2 separate regions of the Homo sapiens genome follow, and region 1 is linked to region 2. Evidence: fine-mapped expression QTL. Tissue or cell type: unexposed skin. Region 2 holds a variant in brackets; the other region holds the start of a gene. All regions are shown on one strand. Distances are from middle to middle.

Evidence for each region. PIP is the estimated chance that this variant, and not a neighbour inherited with it, causes the effect.
Region 1: it holds the start of MFAP3L, and the variant in region 2 is fine-mapped to the expression of MFAP3L in unexposed skin (GTEx, PIP 0.98).

Annotation. Positions count from the first base shown.
Region 1 is chr4:170,022,841-170,031,253 of GRCh38, forward strand. It overlaps MFAP3L (microfibril associated protein 3 like), which reads right to left and starts at 3,555. Exons shown (of 3, transcript NM_021647.8): 1 at 3,394-3,555. RefSeq lists silencers at 3,363-3,452, 3,533-3,932, 4,391-4,460 and enhancers at 3,932-4,651, 4,641-4,780.
Region 2 is chr4:170,000,686-170,009,098 of GRCh38, forward strand. It overlaps MFAP3L (microfibril associated protein 3 like), which reads right to left. Exons shown (of 3, transcript NM_021647.8): 2 at 4,895-5,325. The coding sequence starts at 5,192. Among named protein-coding and RNA genes, the nearest start is that of MFAP3L, 22 kb to the right of the region's middle. The variant T/C (reference allele first, on the strand shown) is at 4,594.

The DNA of each region.
Region 1 (8,413 bases), 22 kb after region 2:
CAAAGGAACAAGGCCCTGCAGAGTCTCTGACTTTTGCCCACTAAGACCCACGTTGAACTCCCACACCACAGAAGTGCATTGGGCCCACCTGTATAATCCTGAATAACCTCCCCATGGCAAGACCCTTAACTCAATCACATCTGCCAAGTTCCAAAGTGGACACCTTTGGTGGGGGGCATTATTCTGCCTATCCCAATGATGTTCCTTCTTCCTGGAGTGTCTACTCTGCTTAGAAGACTTCTAATTCTTTGGGCATTCCTTAATGAAATATCATGACTTTTCCCATGGAAATGTCACTCCAAGCATGAGGTCCTCTCCTCCTCCAATCTACGGGGTTCATTTCCCCGCCTCCTCAGTCCCATGTGCATCCCTCTCTGGAGCACTCATCCTGTACTGTGTTTTATTTGTCCTCAAGCATATCTCCCTGACTCGACTGTGACTTACTCTTACTCATTTTTGTGGCCTCAGGAGTCTAACTATAAAAGTTTGTGGAAAAAAAAAATGTGATATTTTAATGAGTAAAGACCTCAGGTGGAAGCAGAGGCAAGACCAATACATTCACAGGACTTCTGTTTGGAGCATAACTTATAAACTACTTCTGATAGCTCTTAAGTGGTTACACCATGACATAATCAACCAAACCCTTTGTAACCATCTTTCAACCATGCCAGGGAGGTATTATACCAAACTTAAAATTAACCACTGGCATTTTAAGGCCATTTCTAACCGCAATGTGATATGCCATAGATTGAAAACATTGTCAAAGTTTTAAGTGTCCTCCTGGCCTTGGCTAGGAAAGACAAGTCACACCCTAAGTGCTGGGTTAGATGCCAACTTAGGGGAGTGATAGTATCTGCATGATTTCTAAATTCCAAAAACTAACACTTGTTTAACAAATCTGGCTAGGCTGTGTTGAGGTTAAAAGCAACTTGGCTACAATATTTATTTGTATTCCAGTATCTAAAAGTTCTTGCATTAAAAAGTAGAATAAAAAGTCCAAATTAAGCACAATTTAAAATGCCTCGAGTATTTAAATTGCAAGCCAAATAGGAATTGGATAAATTAAGGTCACAGGGATTGGGGGATAGATCTATTTTTAAAGGGAGTAATTTGCTGTAAATGTCTAATGTCACCAACAACATCATACAGTCTAGAAATCTAAACACATGGAAATAAACCTAAAAATCACGTGCCTAGCAAGTGAGCTGCAAGAACCCAATAGTTAACTACAAAAGAGAAGAAATGATCACCTTTTTTTGTAACATGCCTACAAAGTCTATTTTTTTCTTCATGAGCAGTAATAAAACCCCTTTTCAACCTAACTCCTGTTGTTTTTTTGAGTTTTAGGTTAGGGAAATGTGGACTTTTTGAAGCCAAGGGCAGTATGTAAGTAAGTCTTTGATTAAATTTCATCGTGTCTCTTAACACTGAGAAAATACTTAGGATTTGTACTTAGGATTTGTGGATCGAGAAGGGGGCCTATTGATCTGTATTAAACCTCACATTCACAAAAAGTAAACTGAGGCCTTGCTGCTTCCTCCAGGTCAGGAAGAACCCAAGGCTAAGGGGAGACTCTAGCTACTTCTACTGGGGAATGTCACCTGAGGATATGAGACCTGCTGTTCAGGATAAGGTGTACATGCAGGCAGTACTTCATGAAAGATTTTAAACTTGATGCATTTTTATAGAAAAGAGAAGCACAATTATTCAATATTTGTGTTGGAGTTTTCAAACTTATTTTTCTATAAATGTATTTAGAAATAAATTTAGGATGAGTGAACATCACCAACCAGACTATTTGGCTAAAATGGGGGACTGCAGGTTCTAATTCATAAAAATGGTAATCATGTTGTTGCTACTGCTGTTGTCTGGATGTTTCAAGCCTTTCCTATTATTAAACCTCGGTTATGCAGCATCACAGGACAGAGCCAACTCTATACTGGGGGAAATCACCCCAGAGAGTATCCAGAATTAGAGCTGGAGCCATCTCAGGCTTGCAAGCAAGCACCAACCTTAAAGCCTACCCACAACTCAATGAAAAGTCAATGCATTTCTAAAGTCTATTAAGGTCTATAAAGAATGTAAACAATTGTTTTGTAATAAGCTTAATGAATAAAACAACTGAACCCACTAAGTGGTACTTATAGAAAAGAGGCTTGAGAATTTAGCTTTAGTTAGCAGAACTAGTTCCCACTAGAACAGGATTGTTTATCTTGCCCCTATTAGATACAATAATCCTAATAGTGTTAATGGTACTAAATGTTTTAGGAATAAACAACTGTAGAAACCACACTGGGACCTACAAATTGCACTTTCTGTGTAAGTAAAATGTCAGAAGAACTACACTGTTATAACTTACGGTCTCATGAAACGACATTTTTTTCCATCTTGTATTTCATCTTGAAGGATTTTACTATGTTCAGCATAGTAGCAACTGAAAAAAATGTGTTTCATCTAGAAACAAAAGTGAGAAAACTACAAAAAACACTGAGCTTCTGCAATGCTCGGTTTCCAAGTTTTTAACATTAAATCGAAGATAACGCAAAATAAAGATTGCCACAGTAACCAAACTTTTCTGCTAAGTATCCTTAAAAATAATGACAGTTCGATCGTATCTTAACTGTTTTCTACAATGTGAGCAGATAATACACCTACAAACCTTTTTTTGCTACCTTGCTTTATAAAGCTTGCAAGTTTTTTTTTCAGGGCTGGAGAAGACAGCTTAATGATCAAGCTTAAAATAAATCGGTTCTGCAATCACTCTGTATTTTAATCCGATGAAGCACGTTTCCCCATTCCACGCCATGAAGCAATTCGATGTCAACTTGTTATGGAGTCAAATGCGACAAACTCCGAGAGCTTCAGTAGCGAGGCGGCGGCTCGCAGCACCCACAGCCGCCCGCACTCCTGCGGCATCAGGACACGGCGCCCTCCCGACGCGGAACCCGCATTCACGTTCTCCGGAGCCCTGGCCAGCGCACGCTCCTCCCTGTCCGGGTAAACTGAGGCACAGCGATGAGAGAGATCCAGAGCCCAGCGAAAGCCCCCACGGCTGTTCGGCGTCCCCTTCCCCCACGACACCTAGGAGGCTCGCCGGCAGCTGGCAGTGGATTCCGCGCTCCTCGCCCTCGGAAGGTTACGGTTCGAGCCCAGGATGCGGCAGTCCCCAAACGGCCAGCCCCCGCCCCGCACGGATCTCGAAGCATCCTGCGACCCCCTGGAGCCCGCTGCCCGGACCCTGCGGCGTCTCGCAGCGCAGCCTCCGCCGCAGTCTCAGCCAGCCCAAACACCCGAAAGTTCGGCGGCCCCGGCGCCGACTCGGCCGCCGACCCGGTGCGGGGCTGGCTCCCACCCGTGCCCCTCCGCCCCGGCCCGCCGGGGGCCCCCGCTAACCTGACACCGCCGCGCCACTCAGGTGGCCGCCGTGCACCCCTCGCCATGGCCAGCCCGACAGCGGCCGCTGCGCCGCACTCTGCGCCGGACGCCCGGTAGCGCCTACTGCGGGCGAGCCGCCTCCGCCGGCGCCTCACAGCGTTGCGAGCTGCGCCGCCGGCTGCCGGGAGCGCGGAGCTTCCCACCTACAGGAGCCTGGGCCGGCCGGGGCCGAGCATGCCCAGTGCGGCTCGCCGGGCGGCGCGGAGGCGCGGGTGTAGCCGCCGGGTTTTCGCGGCAGCCGCGGGCGGGGGCAGCGGGGCGGGCGGTGCGGCGCGAGCCAGTCGGTGCTGCGGAGCGGCCCCGCGGAGGAGCCACCGGAGGCTGTAGTTGCCGGGGAGTCCCGCATTCAGTCCGCTCAGCCTCTGGGCCGGGCCTCGGCGGCCCCCAGAGCCCCACACCCGCAGGCCCAGGGCCTCCGCGGCAGCGCGGGACTCTCACTCCGCTCTCTCTCCCGCCCGGGGCTTCCACCGCAACTTCTGTGGGCGTCGCATCGCACGCGTGTTCAAGGACACCCAGGAAAAGGCTTCTTAGGGTCCCATCCTGGGGCGCTAAATGGGAACCAGTCAACCCACCCCCAAGCCTACCCTGTCTCCTTGCAATCAAATGCAATCACGAGCAAACCACCTTGCTTCCGAAAGCTTCTCAGGCCTTCCCGGGCGACTGCGCTGTAAGTCTTAAACGTCTCTTAAAGCAAAGTCCACAGATGGAAGAGTCTGGAAAAAAACCCAGCGGGCCGTTCCCTGGTGACTTTCTGAGTGGTGGGGTTCCAGGAATTTTTTTTTCATTTTCTTTAAAAATATTATTTGTAATTTCCACGTTTTTTCTAATGAACCATAAGTTGATTTTTTAATTAAAAAGTAGAGTACTCTAAAATTATTAAGTACCTACAGAAGTTTCGCTACACGATCCTGCAATGTTAGTGGCTTCTTCTCCTCCTTATCTCCCTTTTTTTTTTTTTTTTTTTAATTTTAAAAGAGAACAGAGACTCTCAATTTCTGGGGCGGGACCAGGCTCCTTCCCCCGGCTTTTTAGTGCCCGCCCTCTTGGCCACACCCCACTCCGGCCTTTTTACTCCCGTACCGCCCTCTTCCCGGTGGGTTGCTGCGAAAACCCGGAAAGGTGGACTTTCCACATTGACGCTCCCGGCGGCTCCGGCAGCCAGACTGGGCATGTTCCGCCGCCGGGTCAGGCATTGCTGTGCCAAGAGAGGAGCTTTAGCAACTCTCAGTCTCTCTGCTCCTCTCTGTTCCTGGCAAACTGGCAAAGTAGTGCCTCTGACCCCACGCCCCGAGGTCGGACCTGCAGAAGTGGGTCAGGACCCGACTGAGCATGCTCCGGGCAGTGCCAGGCTGCCGCACGCGGCTGCATCTGGTTGCCCAAGGTTGATGTAGCCGCGGTCTCTCGTCACGACATCGAAGCTCGGGAAACGGATGGAAGCAGGGCTCTAGAGAGGCACGATTGCATCGACACGTGGGCAGGTCGCCCATGCCAAGGGCCATGTTGGTGGGTGGGTGCGTGGGATCTGTCGTATGAGTGAGTCAAAGCCTGATTTTTTCCCCCAAAAAGATTGAAATGAGATATCATATTTTAACATTAGTTTTATGGCATCTTGAATAGCAACACATTTTAGCTCAAGGAATTTTTCAGCTGTCCTTTTGAGAAACGTAAATTTTCTTTGTTTTTAAGTATTTAATAAGCATTCTTTACAATTGCACCACAGCGCGAACTTTCCACCTGCTTTATTAATTATGACATTTGTGTCCCCACTATTAAAATATTCCGCAGTATTATATCCCGTTTTCTTCTCCAGCATTTCTGCATTCACTCTGACTCTATTTCCTCCCCTCCCCCATCTCTTTTAAATTCTCAGACAACCTGCAAAATGCACTCTTGCTATCTTAGAAACCACTTGAGGTCGGTGTGGGGAACTTGCTTTTAATTCTCATTTAGAGAAGACAGTACTGAAATGGAGAAAAGTCACAGGGAAAGTACTTTTACAGATTGTAGATTAGTAAAGAACCCAAAGAGAGCCTTTCATTGAGAGCAGAAAGGCGAATGGAATTCGCTGTTTTCTGTCTAAGGAGGAGGAGGATGGGCAGGCAGGTCAGCTGCCCAGTGGGGCTTGGTGTGATAGTGGGAGTCACCCTTCATTTGAACCTCTCTGCCTTGCCCAGCTCCAGTTCAGCTTCAGCGTGGTCAGAGACACTATCTCTATGGAAGGTCACTCCTGGAAGAATACATTTACTTAGCTGCTTCCACCATGGAATCCTAGCTTGTGCTGGAGTGTCCCCTTCATCCTCCTCCTGTGCTTTGAGAATCCATTGTTGCTGGTATGCCCTGAGCAGTGCCCTTGAACTTGCCCAGGTACCCCTTGACATCCACACCACAAATAGTCTAGCCTTACAAAGGTGGACAAGATGTCTTTTCAACAGTCTGTACTGCCACTTCCATCCATCTGAAGCTTTCTGTTCCTGAGTCTGTCATGACATTAATCTTTCAAAAATCTTTCACAGAGATTTTTAGTCTCTACTAAAAATACAAAACAATTAGCCAGGCATAGTGGTGTGTGCCTGTAGTCCCAGCTACTTGGGAGGCTGAGGCAAGAGAAGCGCTTGAATCTGGGAGGCAGACGTTGTAGTGAGCAGAGATTGCGCCACTGCACTTCAGCCTGAGCAACAGAGTCAGACTCCATCTCAAAAATAATAAATATATATATATACACACACACACACACAAATAGTATGGATAAAGGGAAGACGCTGACCTATCAGAACAACTGCCTGATCAACCAGAAAGGATTCCAGAAATGAACACCTCGCATGGCCATGTGAGAACATACCAGCTAACACCCCTTTGACAGCGGCAATCATCAGAGAGGATGACAGCTCTCAGGAAGAAGAGACCACAGAACACCTACAATGGGGCGGTGCAAAGGATGAGAATCTGGAGGAGGAGGATGAGAAGAAACAGGATGACCTGCAATTGCTCTTCTGCTTGTATTTACTAGCTTGGTTAGCGGGTACCCGTATCTTCTCAGTCACTTACATGATGAATCTGGGCGTTACCCTAGATTCATTCATCTGCCTTTCCCGTGTCATCCAGCTGGTCTCCTGGCATTATCTATCCTGTCCTTATTCATTTCTGAACACCTCCCTTCCTTGCCTCATTGCCTGTCTTACTCCAGTCCCCATCATCTTCCTGATCAACCACAGAGCAACAGACTCCTAGATGGATCCTCTCTCTGTGTCCCCTCCAATCCATCCTCCATAGCTCCTCAGACTTTTCTTTTTAAGCCAATTGTATTACAATATGTCTGCTAAAGATCCTTAAGTGAATTCATAATGCCTTCAGGATAAGGTCCAAACTTTAAGCATGAACTGGCTGCTGCCTTCCTTTCCAGATTAGTCTCCAGCCTGTGTCCCCTAATATCCCATATCCTCACCAGTCCAAATTACCTGCCGTGTGAATTCACACCTCCATATATCTGTTAGTTCTTTTGTCTCTCTTTCTCCTTTCTTCACCTGACAAACTGTTGAGCCTTGGAGATCCAGTTCAGGCAGGATGTCCTCTGATCTTCCCAAGGTGAATGCCTCTTGAGTACTTCACCTGTTTTCATTTGACACCTAACCTTGATTGATTTTTCTTTCATCTCCTCCGCTACACTGTAGGCAACCTGATCGCAAGGGCTGTGTCTCAGCCATCTTTGTGTCTTCGTTCTTAGTCTTCAATAGAATTTTACTTAATAAATAAATACTTAACATATGGACTGATATAATGTTTAAAGTTTATTAATTTAAAAAAAATGTTGCTGAGAATTATAAACAGATTGCAAAGAAAAAATGCCAGAACAGTCACATCATATGCAACCTGCTGAATGGTTATGCTCCTAACAATAAGTTAGGAGACTAAGATAATTGAGCTCTCAGATTTGACCTCCTTAAGCCCAATGAATTTTCTTCAGCTTCAGAAATCAGGAAGTATTTTGTGAACCAGTCTGATGTCCTTGTTTTATTGGTCTGTAACTGCATGAAGCCCAGCACTGTATTACTAATTAACCCACAAATTCCATTGTTCTTTATCACTGTATTTATTTCTTTCCACAACGTGGTAATAACCTTCTAATTATGTGGTTACTCCTTAGAATAGATTTAGTTTATTTTTTTCTGTTGAAAGCATGGCACCCCAGGAGGGCAGACTAGCCTTTTTGGAATTAGCATAATTTTTTACAGTTCTATCAGCTCATAATGTCTGCTGGGGGCACCTGGTACTAACTATGGGCGAACTGATCACCAGCTTCAGGATCACCTGGTGGATGAAGTTTCCATTCCAGACCTCTGGATAGAGTAGTCCAAGAGGCAGTGATTTTTAACAAGTCCTCCTGGTGACTCTGCACACTCTATGTGAGAAACAGTTCTAAGTCACATGGATAAAAGGAAAAATAATAACTCTTGGTCAAAAACTTCAAGTAGCCCCTGTATTGGGTTTTCTTTGGCAGAGAGATCTATGTGGGTGGGAGAGGTATCTGCCCATTAATAAAAGTGTTGTTAATATCTGTGCTTCTTACATAGCCTTGGCTTATATTAGAGGGTCTGGAGAACATAGGAGAGTAACCCAGTAAAGTAGCTGCTTGTTTTTGCACTTGTTGAACAACATAGAGATTTTGCTTTGTAATCGATGCAGGCCCAATGGTACTCTCCAGTTTCTCCTTTCTATATTCTAACCCCTCCAACAGAGAGTGAGTGGAGCATTGGAGGTTTTGACCTCACACTCTTCCTGGAAGAGGACAATAAGAGGTGTATGATGCTACCTACATTAGGCTATCCCTTATTCCTGGGAGTTTGAAACAGCACAATTAGAAGGAGGGTTAGGGGAAGAATGAAAGAAACCCAGTACTTCTCTCTAGTCTTGTGATTTGCTGGTTGAGGAGAGCAAGGCCTCTTGAAAAGGCTGAGTCAATACAGTATTAGGAAAATATTCC
Region 2 (8,413 bases):
CATATGTTCACAAATCATAAATTGTGTTTGCTACCATTTGATGTTCTGTTTGCTGTTGAGATAGGATCTTGCTATTGCCCAGGCTGGAAAGCAGTATTGTGATCAAGGCTCACTGCAGCCTCAAACTCCCAGGCTCATGCAATCGTCCCACCTCAGCCTCCCCAGTAGCAGGGACTACAGGTATGTGCCACCAAGCCCTGCTAACTTTTTTTTTTTCCATAGAGACAGGGTCTCACTATGTTGCCCAGGCTGATCTTGAATTCCTGGGCTCAAGTGACCCTCCCATCTTGGCCTCCCAAAGTGCTGGGATTATAGCCATGAGCCACTGCACATGGCCTTGATGAGTGTTTTAAATCTCAAGTATTTAATATACTAAACAAGAATTCAGTATAACAGGTTAATACACCACTTCACACTGATCTTAGAGGTAAAGGATAATTTACATCTAATGCTGTGGACACCGACCTATTGATATATAAATATTAAGTAGGGAGGTGATAACTACAGTCTTATCACTGGCTGACACAGCTTGTCATGGTCCCTTGCAGAACTAGTTAAAAGGCATATTACAATCTATTCAAAGAAACCTGCAAAAGTAGAGGGATAAAAACAATAAAGCAAAGTAAACTAGAGGCAAAATTTATAATAATGAATTCCATAGCACTATAGTAGCAGTTGTGACAATTGTAGACTCAGTGCTTAATTGTTTTTGGCAACCAGACACTACAAGAGCACAGAAAACAAATCCACAGGAAAAGTAAAAAACCTAACTTAATGGAAGAATTTCAAACTTAATCTCTAACAAACCTAGACATGTTTACAAGGGCTGAAACCAGCTGACTTTCTTGAAATCCTCGTTACTTATCTCAGAGAGGTGCTAATGTTAATGTAAATGGTTTAAAGTCACAGTAAGAAGCAACAGTGAAAACACATTGGATAATTAGTGCCTGAAATAGTTAGGACTTAATTCCTGGCTACTATACATTTCTACTCACTTCTAGCAAAAGGAAAACTGAAAACAGTATATTTCGTGGCCATTTGTGGTTATTCATGTTGTCTGCTTTATGGTGTGTGGACTACCTCAAACAGGTTCTTTGCTGAACTACAAAAACAAAAGTCTTCCAGATAGAGATCACACATTAGCCTCTCCTGATCCTGTGGAATTGAAGTGACAGCACCAGGCAAGCAAAGCAAACCAGCTGCTGCTCCTGCCAATGACAGGAAATAGCCCCATTCTCTCTGGGCCTGGAGGGGCTGGCATGAATAACAGCTCTCTCACCTTTTCAGCAGAAACGAGACATGAAATTGCTCCTTTCCAGGCTAATCACAAAGTGAATGGCAGTGTGCTCCTTGAGTGACTCACCGATGATTTTTGAACGCCTTTTTGTGCATGTGCATGCCATGTACACACACATGTTCCGGCACAAATCCTAACACTGTCTGACCTTGCTATCGGTAGTGAGGATGCCTTTTCCATCTAGTTCTTCTCATATTCACTCAGTCTGAGTGAGAGGCTCTTCAACATTTTTCACCTACAGGACCTAAAGGATGATGTGGTGGGGCACAGAGGGAGAATGAATACCCGCTGGCCACACTCTGGTTGTGTCATACCCTCTGGTTTCACCTGGTTTCTCATCTGTATACATGAGGATTAATAACACTTCACTGTAGGGCTTATTATAAGGATTAGAAATAATATATGTCACTTGGTGCAGCGACTTAGTAAATGGCAGCAGTTGTTAATGAAAATTATAATTTTGTTAGTTTGGTTCTAACAGTAGTCTTAGTGTACCTAGGTAAGGTTCTAGGATATTAGTATCATTTTTCTTTTTTTTGTTTTTTTCAGACAGAGTCTCGTTCTGTCACCAGGCTCGAGTGCAGTGGCGCGATCTCAGCTCACTGCAACCTCTGCCTCCCAGGTTCAAGCGATTCTCCTGCCTCAGCCTCCTGAGTAGCTGGGATTACAGATATGCACCGCCACGCCCAGCTAATTTTTGTATTTTTAGCAGAGACAGGGTTTCACCATGTTGGCCAGGATGGTCTCAATCTCCTGACCTCATGATCCACCCACCTCGGCCTCCCAAAGTGCTGGGATTACAGGCATGAGCCACGCGCTTGGCCTAGTATTTTTCATACTATATTCAATCACCTCTTTATTTAAAAAAAAAAACAAAAAACAAAACACAAAAAACACCGCTCCATATAAACTTCTAGCCTATTGGTTTGAAAATGGAAATCTATGTCCATATTATAATATGGACATTTCCCCCTTCAAAAATGAAAAGTTAAAGACTGTGGGTTTACCAATAGGCCATTCCAGCTCTCAGATTCTGATATTTTTTGAGCAAGAATCTCTCGTTTCTGTTGTTTTCTGTGTATTGCTTGGTTGTTAGGTACACTGCTTTGTATATTATCCCATGTTGCTTATGCTCTGAAATTACCATCATGCATTGTAATTACAAAAGCTGAGCTGGAACATCAAGTACTAGTATCACGAGTTCTTTTTAAAACTTGAAAGTTTTAAAGAGATTTAAAATAGCTAACTGATTTATCAGCAAGGCTGCTGGCTACAAACCAGAGTGCTGAATTCTGATGGAGCAGTTCTCTGTGGCAAAGGCTTTTGACTGGCGGCCACTAGCTTGGGGTCTACTGACAGGCTACTACTATAGTCCATCTTAGCACCCACAAACAAAAGAAAATGGAGCCAAATATAACTACCAACTAGTTCAATGCCCTCAATACACAGATGAAGGAGGGACGGTGCAGAGTCAGCTTGCCAACGCTGAGTCAGCAGTTACAAGGACCTTTTCGCTAAGATACCACATATGTATCTCAGACGCAGTAAGATACTACACTTTGGGATAATCCTCGAAATGTTGGAACTGAAATTCAGGCCCCAGTGCTATGCTATTCCCACAGTTCTCTTCCTCTCTAGGACTGAGGAGTTCAGTGCCCCAACCCAGCTTTTTAATACCCAGGGATAACCTTTGCTTTAGGGTCCATGTAAAAGGGAGATCCAGGTCTTGGGTCTTTCTTCCCTTTGATTCAGTCACCGTGGGTTCCCTAGCGATAGCTCAGCCCTGCAGAAAGACCTGCTAAGGTACCTGGCCTGCAGTGTCTTTGTTACCATGGCTATTGCCCTCCATTCACAAGTGTGACATCACTGCCTTCTGACTTGTCCTGGAGGAAGTGGCTGTAGGAACCAAAACCAGTGTGGGCTAGGGGTTGTGTTCCCTCACCTTTCCACTGTCAGTAGTGAAGGTTCTTGTTATAGCCACTTTTTAAAATTGAGACAGAGTCTCACTCTGTCGCCCAGGCTGTAGTGCAGTGGCGTGATCTCTGCTCACTGCAACGCCTGCCTCCTGGGTTCAAGAGATTATTCTGCCTCGGCCTCCTGAGTAGCTGGAATTACAGGCACGTGCCACCATGTCCGGCTAATTTTTGTATTTTTAGTAGAGATGGGGTTTTACCATGTTGGCCAGGCTGGTCTCAAACTCTGGATCTCAGGTGATCTGCCTGCCTTGGCCTCCCAAAGTGCTGGGATTACAGGCCTAGTCATAGCCACTTAATAATAGCAGGACTTTGGGCAAATTTCAGTAAATGGGTATTTGAACTATAATGTCTTCAATGTGAGTTCTAATTTAACTTTGCTATGGTCCCACAATTCCTCTTGGTGGGTAAAAGTTCGACTCTCCTAGGTTAAACGCGATTCATAATATGTAATATTTTGACTTAAAGGAAGAAGCTTTATAATGCTCTACAACCTTGACTGGCTAACCAAAAGCAATGTAAGTGACAGCACTACAGCAAACCCCACATCCTGGCCAATTAGACGGCTAGCAGCCTCAACCATTCGGAACACAGCTGTGAACCAGAAGTAGGCAACTGCAAGAAAACTCCATTCACTTAGCTCCTAAGGAGATATACAGCATTAGCCTCTATTCTTTTTTCAGGGCAATTAAGATAAAATGAGGGAAAGAGATTTAAAATGTAGGTTTTCCTGGAGCAGAAACTCTTTTGGGGATTGCTCATTGGTTAAAGAATTGTGGAACAGGAGGGCAATGTGAATGGAAGAAACTAATAAGCTGCTACTTTAGAACAATGTTCTTTTCACTCCCCCACCCCAACCCCTCTACTTCACACAGTAAATGCCTAGGAAAGCAGATTAACTCCTTCTGGTCAATCTGACCAGGATTGGGTTTTCAGACAATTACTTCTCGCATCTAAAACAAGAAATGCACCGATTCCCGAAGACCCAATCCTCTCTCTGGCTAGTCTTTCCCGGAGTGAGGTGACTCACACTTTTTGGTCAGAAATGCATTTATTAAAAACCAAGCAGTCTCCTGTTGTCCCACATCCTTCCTTGTTATTGCATCCTCCCTCCCTCCCTGCCTCAGCCTAGAAACTGCAGCCAGGTCTCCAGGAATCCCAGCCAGTGGCTGAGACTTGCACTGAGGTTTCTTTCAGAAGTGTGGTCTTTAAATCCACGGCCAATGAATTAAATGGACATTTAATGATAAACAATGGCTATATTGTTTATTCCAGCCATCTCCATGAAAGAAAACAAAACTCCCTTAAAAATTGAATATATTA[T/C]TTAGGAAAATCCATTTTACATTTGTCTCTATAATGTATTGGATGTATTATATTACAAAATTCCAAGAAGCCTTTAAAAAGACTTCTGTGTTTGTCCTTTGTCTTCTGTGTCAATGAGGGAAAAAAATGAATTAATTGCTTCTTTGAATCCTTAAGGATATATATTCTCTCCTGCCTTAGAAAAACAAGACAAGATGAGATCTTTAAATCATTTGCATGAGAAGAACTAACATCACGGGTGCTGGCTCCAAAGCTCCTGTTTATATTTTATTATGACATTTGATACAACTTTAAAGCCTACCTCCTCCTCTCTCCTTCTCATCCTCTTCTTCTTTCAGCAGCTTGCCAATGGAATTATACCACTTGAACTGTGGGTCAGGGATGCCATAAACACTACAGTTAATCAAGGCACTGTTCCCTTCCTTGACTATGATATGGTCAGTTCTGGCAATGATTACGGGCACAGAGCCCAAGACCACGTTAGTGCCATTTAAAGTGCTGTTAGTCACACTCTTAGCGGTGGCTAGAGTGGATACTAGGATTAAAAAGGGCACAGAAGGTAGAAAGCACACAGTCAGATGGCTCTTCAATCGATCCATCTTCTTTGCTTGCTCTGTAAGGCAATAGAGAGATGGTTTGCCAACCGAATCTTCTATCAGACAACACACTGTTCACAGCAGGTCATGGGACAAACCTGTCCTGGGTCCATAGAGTTGGTACTTGAGCAAGAACCTGTTTTTAAGAAAACAAAAATATATACACATAAACATTAGCATTCATCCATTCAAAACACTATAAACGGTTAGCAATGCAGCTAAAATACAAACATCAACATACTTTTTTTTTTTTTTTGAGAGGGAGTCTTGCTCTGTTGCCCAGGCTAGAGTGCAGTGGGGCGATCTTGGCTCACTGCAACCTTCACCTCCTAGGTTTAAGTGATTCTCCTGCCTCAGCCTACCAAGTAGCTGGGATTACAGGCACCCACCAACATGTCTGGCTAATTTTTGTATTTTTAGTAGAGATGAGGTTTCACCGTGTTGGCCAGGCTGGTCTCGAACTCCTGACCTCAGGTGATCCACCCACCTCGGCCTCTCAAAGTGCTGGGATTACAGGCGTGAGCCACCGCACCCGGCCAAACCTACATACTTTTTAAACAAAACACAACCATAAGATGTTCCGGATGTGAATTATATTTTTCACAGAAATCATAATTTTGTTTTTTGCTATCAAAACATATAGATTTTATAGGAACAAATATTTCTTATATTAAATTTATATATTGCTTCATAGAGCGCAAAAATGGATTCAGGCTGCTTTCACTTACCATGACAAGCTCTCTTTCCTCCACATTACCTGTCTTCATTGTGGAGGACCTAATTGTTCACCTGGGTGTTCCTTAACCTCTTCTCTCCCAGTAAACGGGACTTCCAGTCTGCGTCACTGGTCACAGCTTGGGCTCTGCCGGCATTTGGAAGGACTGCATCAGAATCACTCTGGCATTCTCCTAACTACCCATTATAGCTTCCAGAATGCTCCTTACTGTCTCATTCAACTTCCCATGCTCCTCTGAGCTCCACCTCATCTAGCGCTCTCTGCTCTGTGTTACTGTTACTTACGGGCTCCAGGTCACTCATGTACACCCTGGTTTCAATCTCATCTGCCTCCCACAGGCTGGGGAACATCACCAGACATTACGGTTGGCGGCACTTCTATGTCCAAAGATCTAACCTTCACCTAGTCCTCTATCCTCCATTTCATTCTAATTCTATAGCCATGCCTTCTTCAAAGGCAGAAGTTATTATTTCAATTCTGCCTACAACAACACTGAAGGGGTACCTGGTGATGATAAATTAGCTTCAGATCATATTTTTTTTCAGTAGGAAAGAAAAGAGTTTTGTTTTGCCATAGATTTCCATAAACCCCACTAAACTGGAGTGCTTTCCTGCCCTAGGAAGCCAACACATTACGCCACCAGCTGAAACCCTGTGGCGAAGGGAGATAGCACAGACTGCAATGGCATGATAGACACCCTGCCATGACTTTGCAAATGTCTTTCTTTACTTGGCTAAACTTGTGGTTTCCTTTGTGGTTGGAAAGCTGACCTATTCGATACAGAATAGCTGTGAAGAGCATGGCCTCAGGTTTGAGAGAGACCAGGCCAGGATTCTGGACATAACCACCTTCGCTGGCTGTGTGTCTTGGGCAAGTACAAGACAATTATAAGGATTCACAATCAAATGTATACCAAACACCTATGTACTGCTGCCTTGATAAACAAGAATTATTAGCACAATGTATAAAGCATCCTTTATTGAAATGATGCTTCTCCAATCTATTTTTATGTCTTCTAAAAGCCAGATCTTGAGTTTTGCTTAAAACGTTATTATAAATTATAAATAATTATAAATGACTTTCAGCACTGGGTCCTTTGCAGGGGCTCAAGTCTGAGAATGCATGAGCTGCCCCCTTAGGTGTATTCTGTGGTGAGCATGTTGAGGGCAGGGGCTGGGTCACTCATTATTGACTCCCTGGTGCCCGAGCCATAGCAGATGCCTGGCTAAATACCACAGGGGAGAATCAGAGACAAGGCAGGTTGGGAGATGGGTTCTAATAAATATGGGTGGTAAATATAACTTTTCCCCCCAGTTAAAGAAAATGCCACAAATGGAAAATCAAACTGAATTTTAAAGTGTGTATCTCAAGAGCTGTTTTCAAACAGAGGCTCTCCACATTTGGCTTTCTACGTTCAAACACATTGTGCTAGCAGAGTAAAGAGAAGGGGATACTGCTGTGCTATTATATTTTAATAATGTCAGTAGGTGCTTTGGGCTAGAAACACAGCCAACTGTTCTGAAATGGAATCTAGTTCCGTTAGAGACCTTACGAGATACAGAAGCAGAGACTTTCGTTTTATGCAGGGATTTCAGTTAGCAAAATGTTTTCCCTCTTCCTCATTTTTATTCCCATCCTCTCCCATCTGGAAAAGTCACTAAGGTACAGAAGACATAACGCATCATTTACAGGTTGTTTGTATCACAGCGTTTTGCTCTAAAATTCTGTGAAAACTGATTCAAAGTAAGCACTGAATTAACACTAATGAATTAATAGTTTTAGTAAGAATTTACTTTCAATTTACTCTTTCACTTCAGATTTTTCAAAAGGTATTTATTATGTGCCGGGCACACTGCCAGGATTTAGGGGATGGGAAGTGCCACAAAGCTCAATAAACCACAGACCATGTCCACTCACAGTCTAGTAGTGGAAAGACATACAGATAACTTCAATATGTTCTCTAGGTGCTATGGGCTTGGAGTTGGGTAGGAAGGAGGGGCACCGAACAGCTTGGGTGCCACCTAGAGATGATGTTTGTTGACTGCCCATCCAGCATCCAGGCCCTCTTCTGCCTTTCCCTTTCTGTGAGTCCCATGGCTCACAGGGTAGAAACTTCTAGTCCTTCTCATCACCCCATCGCATGTGCACCTACCAAACTTGACACTGCTCCCTGGTGTATGATCTTGCACTTTTCTGTTTTGAGTAAATTCCTTCTCGATTACAAGGACAGCTCCTGGATAGCAAAAACTTGCACATATAGTTCAGTAGGATTTCCTTATTGCTAGGCACCCATAATCACGTTTACACACTTGCTGTATGAAGCCATGCTTATATGGAATCCAACGGCAATTATTTAAGAACAAATTACAATGTGTTGCCTGAAGAACATAAGATATCACGTGACTCTGGACGCTGGCAAAATATTCTGCAAATGTACCTTTTCAGCTTGTTGGATTAGGATCTTACAGACAGCACCATGAAAAGTTTA